2 separate regions of the Homo sapiens genome follow, and region 2 is linked to region 1. The links come from fine-mapping of genetic effects on gene expression. A gene starts in region 1. The other region holds a variant in brackets. All regions are shown on one strand. Distances are between the middles of the regions. Region 1 holds the start of PHLDB2 (pleckstrin homology like domain family B member 2). Region 2 holds the start of LOC107984087 (a long non-coding RNA gene).

The links.
Region 2: its variant is fine-mapped to the expression of PHLDB2 in lung (TOPMed, PIP 0.96).

Annotation. Positions count from the first base shown.
Region 1 is chr3:111,854,204-111,862,542 of GRCh38, reverse strand. It overlaps PHLDB2 (pleckstrin homology like domain family B member 2), which reads right to left and starts at 3,278. Exons shown (of 18, transcript NM_001134438.2): 1 at 2,967-3,278. LOC105374040 (a long non-coding RNA gene) reads left to right here and starts at 1,727. Exons shown (of 4, transcript XR_924333.4): 1 at 1,727-1,883. RefSeq lists enhancers at 1,845-1,954, 2,285-2,869, 2,870-3,456 and a silencer at 2,761-2,820.
Region 2 is chr3:111,797,663-111,806,001 of GRCh38, reverse strand. It overlaps LOC107984087 (a long non-coding RNA gene), which reads left to right and starts at 7,407. Exons shown (of 4, transcript XR_001740848.2): 1 at 7,407-7,449. It overlaps LOC105374040 (a long non-coding RNA gene), which reads left to right. Exons shown (of 4, transcript XR_924333.4): 4 at 1,554-6,824. It also overlaps a transcript of PHLDB2 not described here. The variant A/G (reference allele first, on the strand shown) is at 4,087.

The DNA of each region.
Region 1 (8,339 bases):
GGCAGGGTGCTTAACCGCATCCCAGGCCTCTACCCACTATATGGCAGTAGCACTCTCCTCCTGTCAGTTGCTACAACCAAAAATACGTTGCCAGTATCCTCTGGGGGCCAAAACCCCTCTCCCAGTGAAAACCACAGCTCTAATGTATGTCAGGACTTTAAGATAAAGCACATCACTTAGGTGTTTTTGTTTCAAAAGAGTGACATTTACACAATCAACAATTGGTACACCAAGACTTTACAGATAGATTCATAAGGCACAGGTACTCCACCTAGAAAATGTACAAAGCCACTGTCACTCTAAGCCATCCACAGCACCATAGCACTGCCTCCCTGCTAAGGGTTGAAAATCAGGATATAAAGCCATAACGTTAACTACTCCTTTAAAAATATTTAAAAGGAGACCGGGTGTGGTGGCTCATGCCTGTAATCCCAGTACTTTGGGAGGCCAAGGCAGGTGGATCACCTGAGGTTAAGAGTTTGAGACCAGCCTGACCAACATGGCAAAATCCTGTCACTACTAAAAATAGAAAAATTAGCCAGGTGTGGTGGCAGGCGCCTGTAATCCCAGCTACTCGGGAGGCTGAGGCAGGAAAATGGCTTGAACCAAGGAGGCAGAAGTTGTAGTGAGCCGAGGTAACTTCTCCAATGAACTCGAGAGTCAACCCTTGCTTATAGATCTCAAAATGGAGCTTTGAAGAAAATAGGGAAAACCAGAGATTGGTTAATCACTTTGGCTTATTTTTTCCTCTCTTGCATACACAACAAACACACATGGTAAATAAAACGTTTCTGGAAAGGTTGCTAACGAGTTTCAGCTTGGTCACAGTTATTGAACGGAGGAGTAAGCAAGCTCTCAGTCCAATTTCCCAAGTATCTTTTCCTCCCCTTTTCAAACAGGGATCCAGGCGACACTCGTGGCAGACGATCTCAACACCAAAAGAACAGCAGCTGCCAGCTGCATAAAACAGATTGAGGCCTGCAAATTGACTGAAATGATGACTACTCTTAACCAGACATCTCATTTTTCCACTTCTGACAGGCTGAGATCTGCAAACCTCTGGGTCTCAAGAGATGAAGGCTACATTAGCCAACTAAGACGACAAACTCAACTCTTCCTTGTCATTAAATAATTTGCCAGTTATAAATGGTTTGGTAACTTTACAGAATTTAAGTACATGTAATGTTTAAATTTCCCCATTAAATGTAAGAGGCAAAGAAAATCCTTTTAAATAACTAAGCAGAGGATATGAAAGGGGAGCCAAGAATAGACAGAACTGTTACTTTTCAAAGAACCTTCGCTCTTTATTCAAACAAATATTTACACAATTGAAGGCAACGGCAAGAGAGATATAGCCATTCTGTTAAAATAGTGGGCAACTCTAACGGTTTATTTATCCCAAATCCGACAGTTCTGTTGCTAACCTACCAGGAACCAAGAATTCAAGTGTTCACAGGGCAAAAGTTTAACCTTCTGAAACTGTGGACCTCATTTAGATCTCTCCCAGCCGAATTCAAACGTTAGAATCCCAGAGACATATCTCGAACGCCCAAATTAAACCAAACTAGGAAGCTTAAAATTACACGTCCAATACTTGAAAACCTACATCTGTAACTTACACGTTCATATTACGAAGGGAAATGTGGCTGACAAATATTTACACTAAAAAGACTCCACATTTTTATGCCTCGTCTAGTTACACTCCCAGCTGTGCCTGGCTATGACTAGTTGTGCATTCTAGAGCTCTTTAGAGCTACTTCAGAGTTGCAGGATAAAGATTTCTAGGGAAGAGGGCAGGGCCAGGCGCCCGGAGGATTTCCAGCCACGGGTAGTTTACCGAGAGAAAAAGCTGCGGGCGTCGCTCCCTCTTTTACATAAGAAAGGTAAGTGAGGAACCGCGAAGCAGTTTGACTTCTCAAGCTCTTTCAAACAGGAAACCCCAACCCTGGGAGGGACAGCCTGTCAGCCTTTTAATTTCCTGGTGGTGGCGGGAGTTAGCCAGGTCCTCGGCGCTTTAATAAGTGATGACTGCTAGGGCTAAGTTATTAAGCGAACCAGCAAACGATTCAGCTGCGCCTCCGCCGCGCAGGGAGCTGGAGAAACAGAGGGTTAAAATACTCCCCAAGCCTTCCAGCTGCTATCTCTAGGGGTGCCGAGACGGCCACACTGTAAACTTTCAGTGGGGGGTCAAAGGCCAAATCGAAATCAGCCGCTTTTGGCGGTTAAAGCTCGTAGGTTCACTCTTGAAAGAAAGTGGAACTAGAAGCGCAGCTAGCCAAATATTTGCGGGGAGGGAGTCTTCTCTGAATCCCGCGCCCTACACCATCCAGCAGCGGACCTTCTCTTTCTCAGGGAGCTATCCCAAGGATCCCCATCCCTCTCTCCATGTGCATTCCAGAGTTGCTGGAAAAAGTTGCCCCCAGTTCCCCCACATTCTGCCTGTTTTCTACAATCACTCTGGAAGCATCTTCCCTACCAGACACTCCCTCCCCGGGATCCCCTCAACCGGAGATCTACCCAGCCCCCCGAGAGTCATGCACAACGGGGTTCGCCACCCCCACCCACCCAGCTGCGCAGCCTGGGCACTGCCGACCCCAGCCCGGGCTTTTGTCCCTACAGCCTGTAAAGAAGCAAAGAAACTCTGTGTCCCCGGAGCCCACTCACCGTCTCATCTTTCCTCCAAACCGCCGCTCTACGCTGGCGCCGCCGCCCTAGCGCCTAGCCTTTGCCCCCGCCCACCCTGTCTCCCTCCGTGAGCCCGCCGGCCCCTCCTGACTCGCGGTGAGCAGTCAGCGCGCCCCTCCTCGGCCCGGGCAGCCACTGCCTCCTCTCCGCCCCCAACCCTCCGCAGCGCAACCGGCGGCAACCAACTCGGCCGCGGGGGAGGCAGCGTCCCCGGGACGCACTCCTGGCACACGGAGTCGGCACCACCCCCTCCTCCCGGGCGACCACCGCCGCCTCCTCACCTGGCCATTGGTGCAGCCCGTTCCCGGCGGCGAGAGAAGGCAGGCGCGCTCCTTGCGCCACGCCACACCGTCGGGCCCCCGTCGGGTCCCCCTCGGGCCGCAATGGTGGGCTCCGCGCGGCTGGGTCCGGCACTCTTGACCCCCTTTGTAACCACCGCGGCGGGCACCCAGGGAGTTCGAGCAACGAAGTTGGTGACCTGCCCCGCTCCCAGGCAGTTTGCTGTTGGGGCTTTCACGGCTGCTGGAAGGGCATGGCTGTTTGCCCCATCACTGGGCGCCAGCTTCTCAAAGCTACGTTCGCAGCAACGCAGTAGGGACTTTCGTGGCAGGCTTTTTTTAAGAGCTGAAAGAAGGGCGGGAGGGTTTACGTCCTAGGGTGATGATTTCCTCACCAGACAGCGAAGTATCTATTGGGAAACTCCAGGTGACCGCACCTCCTTCCGACAGTTCGCCCCGGGGCAAGTTTACCAGCTGCGTCAGAAAGCAGGTTTGCAAAATCCTTGGAGAACGGCCTGAGCTAAGGACTGGGGTCAGGAGGGTTTTAAACTCATTCTGATTTTCTTGCAATCATATCTCTTGAAAGTTTTTATATTTTCCCCAATATTTTTCTGAGTTGCTATATCCAATGAAAACAATGCTGATGTAGAGGTCCACCAGCCAATGCTTTATTGGAAGTCAACGAATGAGACCGAGGGTGGCCCATAATCAATCTCGGCACGCGGGAATGTGAACCTCTTCCAAGGTCTGGGCGAGTCCCTAGAGTTACGCAGATGAAGGACATTGGCCCTCGAGAATCTCACACCAGCAAAGAAGAGCACAACGAAGCGCAAACTACTTATGATCATTGTGGCTTTGGGCAAGTTGTTGTAGCTCCCAGCAACAATTTCTTCACCTGGAGTGCAGCAATAAATGATACTGGTGCTGCAGGGCAGCTAATAAGCTTCTGAATAATATATGCAAAGTACTTGGCACCATGAGCAGAACTCAGTATACCGTCACTGAAGAAATAGCTTATTTAATGATTACACTTTTCATATGTGCAAGTAAAAGTTTGACTTTTAGGGAGAGCCTCACCTACGGAATGTCTTTTTTAAATTTCTTTTTTAATTATACTTTAAGTTCTGGGATACATGTGCAGAACGTGCAGGTTTGTTACACAGGTATACATGTGCCATGGTGGTTTGCAGCACCCATCAACCCTTCATCTAGGTTTTAAGCTCCGCATGCATTAGTTATTTGTCCTAATGCTCTCCCTCCCCTTGTCCCCCACCCCCCAACAGGCCTCAGGGTGTGATGTTCCCCTCCCTGGGTCCATATGTTCTCATTGTTCAACTCCCACTTATGATGAGAACATGCAGTGTTTGGTTTTCTGTTCCTGTGTTAGTTTGCTGAGAATGATGGTTTCCAGCATCATCCACGTCCCTGCAAAGGACATGAATTCATTCTTTTTTATGGCTGCATGGTATTCCATGGTGTATATGTGCCACATTTTCTTCATCCAGTCTATCATTGATGGGCACTTGGGTTGGTTCCAAGTCTTTGTTATTGTGAACAGTGCTGCAATAAACATACGTTTGTATGTGTCTTTATAGTAGAATGATTTATAATTCTTTGGGTATATACCCAGTAATGGGATTGCTGGGTCAAATGGTATTTCTAGTTCTAGATCCCTGAGGAATCGCCACACTGTCTTCCACAATGGTTGAACTAACTTATACTCCCACCAACAGTGTAAAAGCGTTCCCATTTCTCCACATTCTCTGCAGCGTCTGTTATTTCCTGACTTTTTAATGATTGCCATTCTAACTGGCGTGAGATGGTATCTCGTTGTGGTTTTGATTTGCATTTCTGTAATGACTAGTGATGATGAGCTTTTTTTCATATGTTTGTTAGGAATGCCGGGTTTTTTAGAGGAATTCTTTTCCCTGTCCTGAGTTTTTGCCCTGCAGAAGCATACATACACTGATCAATCCAACAGTTAAACAGTTAAGTGCTCCAGCAATGTTCTTTTCTCACCCACGTCATCTCTTTCCTCCTCTTTTTTGGATCATCCCCATAAACATACAATCATTTTATTTCCATTACCTTGGAATTTTTTTTTCTTTTCTTTTCTTTTTTTTTTTTTTGAGACAGGGCCTCACTTTGTCACCCAGGTTGGAGTGCAATGGCACAGTCATAGCTCACTGCAGCCTTAACCTCCTGGGCTCAAGTGATCCTCCCACTTCAGCCTCCTGAATAGCTGGGACCACAGGTGCAGACCACCATGCCCAGCTAATATTGAATTTTTTGCAGAGATGGGGTTTCACCACATTGCCCAGACTGTTCTTGAACTCCTGGGCTCAAGCGATCTGTCTGCCTCCGCCACCCTAAGTGTTGGGATGACAGGTGTGAGCCACTGTGCCCAGCCTCCTACTTCCCCTTTATCACTCACTTAGCCCCTGCCACAGTGGCCTCGTAGACTAGATTCCTAGGTAAATCCGTTCTATCTCAGGGCCTTTGTTCTAATTGCCCTCTCTGCCTATAATTCCCTCCTCCCAAGTATCTGCATGGTTCACTCCCTCACTTCCTTCAAGACCCTGTTCAATGTCACCGTGTTGCTCAGGCCTGCTCTGACCACTCTACTTAAAAGTTTAAAATGTGTTTTCCATACTACTTAAATTTACTTTTTGACAAAGTCACCACATTCTACTATATTGTAAAATGTACTTTTTAAATTATGTTTATTGTCTGTCTCTCCTCACTAGAATGTAAGGCAGGCAGGCAGAGAGTTTTGCCTGTTCTCTCCAGTGCTATATCCCTAGTGTGCCTACAAGGATACCGGACATGTAAATGGTGCTCAAGAATAAATGATGGCTTTGACCCAAAGCACTGTGTTGCAAACATTTCCTTGCCTCGAGCAATGCCAGAAATACACTTGACTACACAGACATCTTAGAGACAACCTTTCTCCCTTCAGGTCTAAGGAGAATGTGCACCAACACAGCACATTTAGAATGGCCATAATTAGATTGCCAATATTTATGTCTAAGAAAAAAATAGCTAAATTTATTGAGAGCAATAATTACTATTGTATACGTATCCGGTATTCTTCCAAATATAGGACAATATTAGTTGATGCGGTGAGAGTTACTGTTTGTTACTACTCCCATTTTATAAGTAAAAAAGGAATCACAGAGAAGTCAGTTGTCACTCAGGTAATAAGTTGGTAGAGGCAGAATTTGAGCACTTGTTCTTGAGTTCATTGTCTTTAATGCTACCTTCTACCTCTTTTCTAAGTATGAATGTTACTAGGGGATATTTCTGTATAATGAATAATTCCAAATTACTAGACAAAAAGTAATCCTCACTGGCCTCCCTTCACTGCCTTGTTTTATCTGCTAGCATCTCTATCTCTTAGGATAGCCAAGCTCCTAGAAGGCAAAGGGAGTCATTTTATTCATATTTGTATGAATCATACTCCAAGACTTATATATGGAAGGGACTCAAAAAGTAGTCATTGAATGTGACTTTTTCAAGTGACTAAACCCAGCAAAGTTTCCCATTCCTGATGAGTTAGAGTGGTTTTCAATAGCTTTCATAAGGCCATAGCAGCCTGAAGATAGACGAGACCACCCTGAAGGTGCAAGTCTTAAATTAGATAAATTCAGTCCAGGCTCAATGGCTCATGCCTGTAATCCCAACACCTTGGGAGCCGAGGTAGCAGGATTGCTTGAGATTAGAAGTTCCAGAGCAGCCTGGCCAACATGGCAAAACCCGTCTCTACTAAAAATACAAAAATATTAGCCGGGCATGGTGGTGCACCATCTGTAGTCCCAGCTACTCAGGAGGCTGAGGTGGGAGAATCACCTGAGAATTCGAGGCTGGGTGATCCATGATCGCACCATTGCACTCCAGCCTGGGTGGCAGAGTGAGACCTTGTCGCCAAAAAAAAAAAAAAAAAAAAAAAAGACAAATGCAGACCTCAACATCTATAGAAAGCACTCAATAAAGTGCAACTGTTATTGTTATTATTATATTACCAGACTTTCTTTTAGTAATGGTGATGGAAAGAAAGAAGAAAGAAAGGAAAGAAAAGAAGGAAGGAAGCAAAGAAGGGAGGAAGGAAGGAAGGAAAAAGAGGGAAGCGCGGGAGGGGGAGAGAGAGAAAGAAAGAAAGGAAGGAAGGAAGGAAGAAAGAGAGAGTCTTTCTACCTTTTCTATTTCCTGGGTTCTTTATAATAAAGTTTTCTGTTTAATCACAGACCAGAGTCCTGCCTGCGCTCTGCCATTCCTTATCACTAGAGATATTGTGTTGTAAACTAAACAGCAGACCTTTCTTGTTTGCCTCTCCAGGATCTGTAGTGGTTACAGTCCCTGATCTTACTTTCCTGTGTCCTTCACCCTCTCAGGTGGGGAACCTTAAAGTGTTGCACAGTGTTGAGGCTAAAGCAACTCTATCTTGGATGCTAATCTGCCATGCTGACTTTTTTTTTTCTTTTTACCCTAATTCCATGGAAGATTACCTGTTGACTTCTGATTAACCCGAGTTCTGGGAATTACTCTAAGATTTGTACTTTATCTACTGATACCTTAAATCCTGCCCCTGGGTCAAAACAACCTTGACCATAAATCCTGCCCATGGGCAGATTCACAGAGCATTCTTGCCTCTCCCCAAGGGGTCGACTTCAATTCTCCTACACATTCTTTTCCTTTAGTTTATGTGTCTTGACTCTGGGAGTGACAGCGTGGAGATGCACCATCTTTTTTCACAGCCACTGGGGACATGGCTTCTGTTCATAAGTCTCTATTAAATGTTTCTTTCTGAGAAACTGGACTTGTCAGCCTCTTTCTTTGGCTTTTCAGCTTCTGTGGTCTTTGGGAGTAGGTTTGTACATACCTGCTCACTTTGAAACACATACAGTGATATTATGAATTATTTATGTTATTCCATTTGTAATTATTTTTGCTATTGTTCTCTTTTATTAGAAAAGATCGGTTGGATTTGATTAACTTTTTATGTCCTGAATCTGTATATTTGCTCCTTTCTCTGCAATGATAGCCTAACAAATCTTTGTAGCTATTAACTCATTTCAATCTTACTGCAGTTTAACTCATGGAACAATTGTTTGTGCTGAAGTTCGCTTTAATATTATGATGATTTAATGAATCAAGAAGTTTCTACTTGCAAAGTGCAGTGGAAAAATCATTGACTGTGAAGTAAGGCAGAACTGGGTTTTAAGCCCTGATTCAGCCCCTTTGCTAGCTAATATGGTTTGGCTCTGTGTCCCAAACCAAATCTCACCTGGAATTGTAATTCTCATAATCCCCAAGTGTCAAGGGTGGGACCAGGTGGAGGTAATTGGATCTTGGGGGCAGTTTCCCCCATGCTGTTCT
Region 2 (8,339 bases), 57 kb after region 1:
TAACTCTTGACCAATTCTCTGTCTCTATTGTTTTGCCTTTTCTAGAAATTTCATATAAATGGAATTTTATATAATACAAAATGTAGTCTTCTGTGACTGGCTTCTTTCTTGACTTCTTGTATCTTTTCTTTTTTCTTCTTCTTTTTTTTTTTTTTGCATACATCTATGCAACCACCATCACAATCAAGATATAAACATTTCCATCATCCCAAAATTTCCCTGTGTCCTTCCCAGTCAACACTCCCACTCACCACCCCTGGCCCCAGGCACCACTGACCTGCTTTCTGTCACTATAGATTAGATTTGTCTTTACTAGCATTCCATAAAAATGGAATCAGACAGTATGTATACTTTTGTGTCTGGCTTCTTTCACTAAGCTTGCTGTTTATGAGACCCATCCATGTTGTTGCATTTATCCAGTAATTTTTTTTCTTTTTTTTTGAGACGGAGTGTTGCTCTGTCGCCCAGGCTGGAGTGCAGCGGCGCAATCTCGGCTCACTGCAAGCTCCGCCTCCCAGGTTCGTGCCATTCTCCTGCCTCAGCCTCCCGAGTAGCTGGGACTACAGGCATGCGCCACCATGCCCAGCTAATTTTTTTGTATTTTTAGTAAAGACGGGGTTTCACCATGTTAGCCAGGATGGTCTCGAGCTCCTGACCTCGTGATCTGCCCGCCTCAGCCTCCCAAAGTGCTGGGATTACAGGCTTGAGCCACAGCGCCCGGCCCCAGTAATTTTTTTTATTGTTGAGTAGTATTAGCTTGTATGGATATATCATAATTTGTTCTTGGCTATAATGAACAAAGCTGCTATAAACATTTATGTACAAGTCTTTTGTGGACTTATGTTTCATCTCTCTTGGGTAAATTCCTATATCTAGGAGTAGACTTGTTGGGTAACAAGGCACACGTATGTTTAACGTGTTAAGAAATTGTCAAACTGTTCTCCAAAGTGACTGAGGTTGACACTTTCAAATTCTACATTCTTGCTAGCAGTGTATAAGACTTCTGGTTGCTCCACATCCTCCCCAGCACCTAGTATTGTTCTATTATTTTATTTTTCACATGAATAACTTTTTATTTTACCAAAAACTTGATATTGTTCTATTGTTATTTATGTCAATATTTTATTTCTCAGTGAAATTTATTACATAATTTTGAAGTTTTTCTCAAAATAAGAAGTGGCCCACTTTTTAGAAGCCCTGTGTGCAAATTAATTCTTACTGTTCAGCATCACAGTTATTTAAAAAGTCAAATAAACACTGCAGTTTAGCAAAGTTTTCCCCCCAAAATTTCAATGGTAAGTATTAGCTGTAATTTTAAATAAGAAATGAAAGTTTAATTGGGCAAAATCTGGACATCCACATGGAGTAAAGTAGAAACCTATTAGTCAAGTGATGTGGGACTAATTTTTTGAGGTTTAGCTCCATTATTACTGTACTTATGCTGCAGATAGTATATCTTATACTCTGCGTAGAAAACAATACATCAGTAGGTTGGGGCCTAGCATCATCATTTACTTTTTTGCATCTGAGGCTTCTTTCTTTATTTCTAACAGGTTGACCTGAACATCATTGGCTAAACATAGGAAATCAAGAAATTGTTAAAACTTCGCCAAAGTTTTCTACCTCTAATAGTTAAGAGATGATGAAGGGAAGACTCTGTTCTTCAGAAGAATTCAATAATGTCTTCTTTCACAGGCTTTAAAAGATTATCTCTTCAAAGATTCTTCTAACTTTTTGTTTGTTTATAGACCATGTGTTCTCAATAGGAACAATATTGTCCACCAAAGGGTGAAAATTGGTTCTTGGGGGGTTTAACATTTTCTTACTATTTTAATGTATAAAGCACAGATATACCTATATACAGTTCACAAACAACATAATGGTGTCTCTGTGGCATTAAATCTCATGGAGGAGAGGACGATCAGAAAAAATGTCTAAAAAGGCTTCTTTAGGGATGTGATACTGAACAAAAGTTTAGAAACTGAATTAGAGGACAGGAAAGGCACATAAAGAGTTTAAAGGGACTAATCAAACAGGACGTTTTCAACTGATTACATGAATTTGGTCTGAGACTGATTCCTCAGAATGCCCCCCACTCTCAAGATACCATTTCACCTGAAGTCATTAGCTTTGGAATAGAAAGGAACAAATCTACGCTTTGTTAAGAAATATTTGTAAATTGGAAATTTTCATTCTTTATCTCACTTTGTTTTAAAGCAACATCAGAGAAAAAAATTGTTATATCCATTTTTTATAGCTGAGGGAAGTAACGCTCAATGAGGTTAACACTTTCAAATTCTACAAAGAATACACAGTTTCTGAGTGTAATTAGTGAATGTAAGAACCTGAGTTTGTTTGATTTCAAAGCCCATGATTTCCTCCCACTCATGTGCTAGCCAGGGATTGCTGGTGGGTGAGATGGTGTTCCATTCTACTATCCTGAGTTCACTGAAAATTGACTCAAATGCCTGAGTCAGGAATTGATGTGTTCTCACAGCTCGAATTCTGGGAAGACTAGTGGTGGGGGTGGGGCTGTCACTAAGATGTCCAGGAGTTCTGCACGGGGTGGTGGGGGCACATTCTCCCGGGAAGTTTCAACTGGACTGGAGTTTACAGGAATCCAAGAGCTTTGGCTAGAACAGAACCAATCTCAGGATTGCAGAGAACCCTGTTAGTAGCAACCTTACATTCCATTCCATATTTGTCAGTGAGGGAGAGGCACTCTGATCCCCATCAGAAATTTGAAGAACCACATAAGTTTTGGCTAGCTGCCTGTTCCCTCTGCTTCACAGCTTAACGATGAAACTTTTGTTTGCTGTGTTCTTCCATCCTCTGCTCCCAAGTAGCAGATGCCAACCAAGGAATGACTGCTGATTTCAAAATTAGAGAGATGGCCATATAGACTATGAACATATAGATCATTTCTGCTTTTTCTTTTGTTTCTAGAGATTAGTATAAAACTTTTTGTACAACATCCCCTATACTCATTAAATCTGTGACATCCTTGTTGCTACCTGATATCATATATCTGCTTTATTTTATATTTCTGCTTTTCCTTTTCCAGTGACAGGTTGCCATTTTAAAGATGATTAATTATCTATCATTTGGGAGCAGGACCATAACCTTTAACTTTTCCTGACAGGACAAAAAACATGTGTTCACACCACCCACCCTTATTGATTCTCATGGTAAGGAAGAAGAGAGGATCATAAACTAGAAGTGAAAAAATGGAAGTTTTAGTGCTTTTTCTTTAAAAGAGAGAGAATGCATGATGCTTGCCTCACTCTGCTGTAACGAATGTAAGTTAAAACTAAAATACAGTTTAGAAAACTTTCACATATTACTCACAAGAACAAGCTATGAGTGTTGTTATTTTACTATTTGCTAAATGTATAGTACTAATGTCTCTTCTAAGGGACAAATATCAAGCATTTCACAAGAGGTTACACGTCATCTTGCTCTATGCTAGCATGGAAATAAATGAGAGTTGGGAAAACAGGAAATAAATATTCTAAGTTATCAGGGAATGCTGCCAAGGCATCATAGGAGTGTCATTAGTTATTTTGGTTTCTCAACCAAGACCTGAGATACAAGGCTAGTGGGTGGTGTCTAGGACAACACAGAGAAAATGAGGAAGCTCTTGGAAAGTGCTCTCCCCTTGCTCTGTCTCCCCTTTATTCTTCACTCTGTAGGCCAGATCCTCTGGAGGCAGAATGCAGCCACCACTGTGTTTACACTTTGGTACAAGAGAGGTTTCTTGTATGTAAGCACAGTGCTCCATGGAGCCATAGAGATAGCTGGTGGCACTCTGCAGTTTTCTGTGCAGTAGCTTGATAGACTGGAGAAAGCCTGAACTAGGAGCCAAAGTTTTGATGTTAGATGCATAATCATCACAAGTAACACAAATCAATTTTTAGCAAGTTACTTAAATCTTTCTATCCTGGTTAATTTATTGTTTTACATTCTAAAAATTGAGATAGAATTCATATACTATAATATCCACCCTTTATAAAGTCTAGAATTTGATGATATTTGTGATTACATTCACAAAGTTGTGCAACCATCACTGCTATCTTATTCCAGAAC[A/G]TTGTCATCATTCCAAAACAAAACAAAACAAAACAAAACACCCATATCCATGAGCAGTCACTCCTTACTCTTCCCTCCTCCCAGTCCCCAGCAACCACTAATGTATGTTCTGTCTCTATAGACTTGACTATTCCACACATTTCATATAAATGTAATTATATGTTATGTGATCTCTTGTGTCTGTCTCCTTTCACTTAGCATAATATTTTCAAGGTTCATTCATGGTGTTACATGTATCAAAATTTTATTTCTTTTTATGGGCAATAATACTCAATTGTAGCTTATTGTTTAGTCACTCATTCATCTGGTCATCCATCCTTCACCTACTCTTCACTGAATACTTATTATGAACCAGCCTTGTCCTAGGCTCTTGGGACACATTTATTCATATTTGTGACATGAATGAATAAAGGCACAAATTTATTAACTATTATATAAAGATAAATATGAGATCTTCATATCACCTCAGTTAAAAATATTGGGTGAACAGATTGTTTATGAGCTTTTAAAATTTTGAGGTCTTTGTATCCAAAGGAGACCTGAGTTCTTGTTTAGTTTCTGTGTCTACTTACCCCTTGAAACTTAGATTAGAGGAGGGAGGGAGGCCTGCTTCATGAACCCCAGGACTGTGGGTTATTTCAATGTGGCCCTGTGCTCAGAGGGGCCTATGCTTGTTTTAACACTCTGTTGTGACTGTCTTGAAATTCTTAATAACTTTTGAACAAGGGGCCTTGTATTTCATTTTCCACTGGGCCCTGTAATTTATGTGGCCAGTTCTGAAGGGAGCAAATATTTATTAAGTGTCTACTCTGTATTGGCCATTGAATTTGACCCCACAGCTCATGTTGTTTAACAAGTCACATTTCTCTATTTTAAAAATGAGAATGTTACATTTAATATTATTTAAGGTCTCTTCTATGTCTAAATTTCACTAATTCTAAGTCTTGCAAAATGATCTATGAAGGCAATGTATTATACTTGTACCAGCTGATTCATCTTTTCAAGATTTATCTTAATTGGCATAACTTCTTAGAAATCTTCCTTGATTCTTTCCCCAGCCAAATTTAGTAAGCTTTCTTTTGTGTTCTCACACTCCCTCAGTGTTATTAACAGAGCTTTTTATAAAACTGGATTTTATGAAGTAAAAATAGTTTCTGTCTCTCTCATTGCATTGTATGTCCCCTTTAAATCAGGTACTGCATCTTAGTTAACGTGTAACTTGCAAAATGCTTCTTAAAACAAGCAGGATTAAAGAGTCCAATAGTAAAAATGAAAGTTCAGAAATGCCAGTTCATGACATTATTAGAGATGGGAAAATCTGAGGCAAACACATAGTCCACAACAAAGTCACTGGAATATAGAAACTAAAGATATACAGTGAGAAAAGAAATTAGGACATTTGCCCAAGTAAACTTAACTTAAAAGAACTATAGTTTTAAAATGATATATGCATAATAGTATAGGAATTTAATAAACAAAAAGTAATACAAAAGTAATACCTCTCCATAATTTTAAAATAATCAAAAGGCACAGAGGGTATAAAATAAAAATTTCTTTTCATGTAATTTCCCAGTCTCATTTTCCAAAGATATGCTCAATAAGAGTTTCTTGGCCAGGCATGTTGGCTCACGTCTGTAATCCCAGCACTTTGGGAAGCCGAGGCAGGCAGAAACTTGAGCCCACGAATTTAACACTAGCCGGGGAAACATGGCAAAACCCCATCTCTACAGAAAATTGCAAAAACTAGGTGGGCATGGTGGTGCATGCCTGTAGTCCTAGCTACTCAGAAGGTTGAAGTGGGAGGATTACCTGAGCCCAGGGAGGTTGAGTCTGCAGTGAGCCGTGATTGTGCCACCACACTCAAGCCTGGGTAACAGAGTAAGACTCTGTCTCAAAAAAAAAGTTTCTCGAGTATCCTCCTAGAAATGCTTTATGAGGAGTACATTTATACACTCTTGTTATTGCACAAATAGGATTCTATTTATATTTCTATATAGTTATTTTCCTTGCCTTTTACTTAGTAATATTTTTTAGACCTCCTCCCATATTGGTATCTATAGATCTCCCTAATTCATTTTCAGGAGTGCATAGTACTCTATGACATGTGTTGAACACAGTTAAATAAAGCAGTCCTTTCTGATGAATACATAACATTGTTTTCAGTTTCTGTAAATTATGGAAAACCACAATAGATATCTTCACATAGGAAGATATTCACAGTATAAATTTCCAGCAGTGAAATTGCTGGAAGTCTTTATAATTTGATTTTAAGAAAAACTTAATTCAGTACCCAACCTGATGTCTTTGAGACAATTTCACATTTACTTGTTTGTTCTTCTCCCTCACCTTCCTTTAGAATTTCTTTTTTCTGATTGGGATGACATATTTCTAAAGTATTTCTAGCTTTCAAAAAAATAATTTATAGAAAATCAGTCTATATTTTTAAAGACCAATTGAAGCTGTCTACCTCACCAATGTGAAGAACTGAAGTAGAATTTAATTTTCTTTTCTAATACTTTTTTCTAGTATTAAATTCAAAGACTACTATTCCTCTTTTATTTACAGCAGTCTGTGTTCAAATTGTGCTGACACCATGATAGATTTCAGAGTGATTTTTTTGGCTATGTGGGCCTCTCCCATTATAATAAGAGTACCAGCTTCTTAATGCTTGTGATATGATTTGGCTGTGTCCCCACCCAAATCTCATCTTGAATTTTAGTTCCCATAATCCCTAGGTGTCATGGGAGGGACCCAGTGGGAAGTAATGGAATCACGGGGGTGGTTTCCCCCATGCTATTCTTGTGATAGTGAGTTCTCACAAGGTCCAATGGTTTTATAAGGGGCTTCCTGCTTCACTTGGCTCTTATTTTTCTCCTTGCTGCCACCATGTGAAGAAGGATGTGTTTGCTTCCCCTTCTGCCATGATTGTAAGTTTCCTAGGGCCTCCCTAGCCATGCTGAACTGTGAGTCAATCAAACCTCTTTCTTTCATAAATCACCCAGTCTTGGGTATGTCTTTATTAGCAGCATGAGAGTGGACTCATACAGCCTGTCTCCATGTTAGCTCACCTTCCTGGCCCTCATATGAGGTCTAAACAACACTCCTTTGCATAGTAGAAATTCAGCATATATTTTGAAATTGATTGTATTGGAAACATCAAAGATGCCAGATCCTAGAATTGTTCAGATTAAAGATAAAATAACATTTTATTTTATTTTATTTTATTTTATTTTTATTAGAGACAGGCTCCGGCCCTGTCACCCAGCCTTGAGGACAGTGGCATGATCATAGCTCACTGCAGCCTTGGCCTCCTGGGCTCAAGTGATCCTCCTGCCTCAGCCTCCCAAAGTGTTGGGATTACAGGTATGATACACTGCACCTGACTGAAAATATTTTAAATAAATGCTTTAATAATTTCATTGCAGTTTTGTGGCCCAGGTAATTTTCACTTAATCTTACTTGATTACAGAAAGCAGTATGAAAAGTAAACACAAGGAAGCCTAGAACATACCAAAATTCTCCTATACAGATGATTTGAGTTTTAAATATTTTTAGGTCTTATTTCCTTGCTTTCTTTAGAATGATGGTAAAAATTGACTTTTTAAACATCTTTTGAAAAATTAGAGCACTCTCAGATTTAGAATGTTCCCTGATTCTTTTTCTTCTTCTTTTTTTAAGATAGAAAATTTGGGAGTAAATTATAAAGGCCAAGGTCTTAGAAGTTCACCTTGTTTTCTATTCCTCTACAATTGTTTTTCAAATTTTTCAAATTTTAATTTTTTGAGATAGGGTCTCACTGTGTCACCCAGGATGGAGTGCAGTGGCATGATTTTGGCTCACTGCAGCCTCAACCTCCTGAGCTTAAAGGATCTTCCCACCTCAGCCTCCCAGGTAGCTGGGACTACTAGCATGCACCATTACACTTAGCTAATGTTCTTATGTTTTTATAGAGATGGGTGTCTCACTATATCGCCAAGGCTGGCCTCAAACTCATGGGCTCAAGCGATCCTTCCACAGTGGCTTCCCACAGGGCTGTGATTACAGTCGCAAACCACTGCACCCTACCCTATTTCTCTACAATTGAGTAATCACAATTGCGTAGCTTTCGGCAAATCACTTCATTTCTCTGAGGCTTGGTTGTTCTGTTTTCTGCAAAGTTAAGAGCATCTTAAATATCTATCCAGTTCTAAAATGGTAGGACATCAAAGTGGGAGTGATGGTGGAGAAGGGTTGTGAAAGTTGCTTGTAAACAT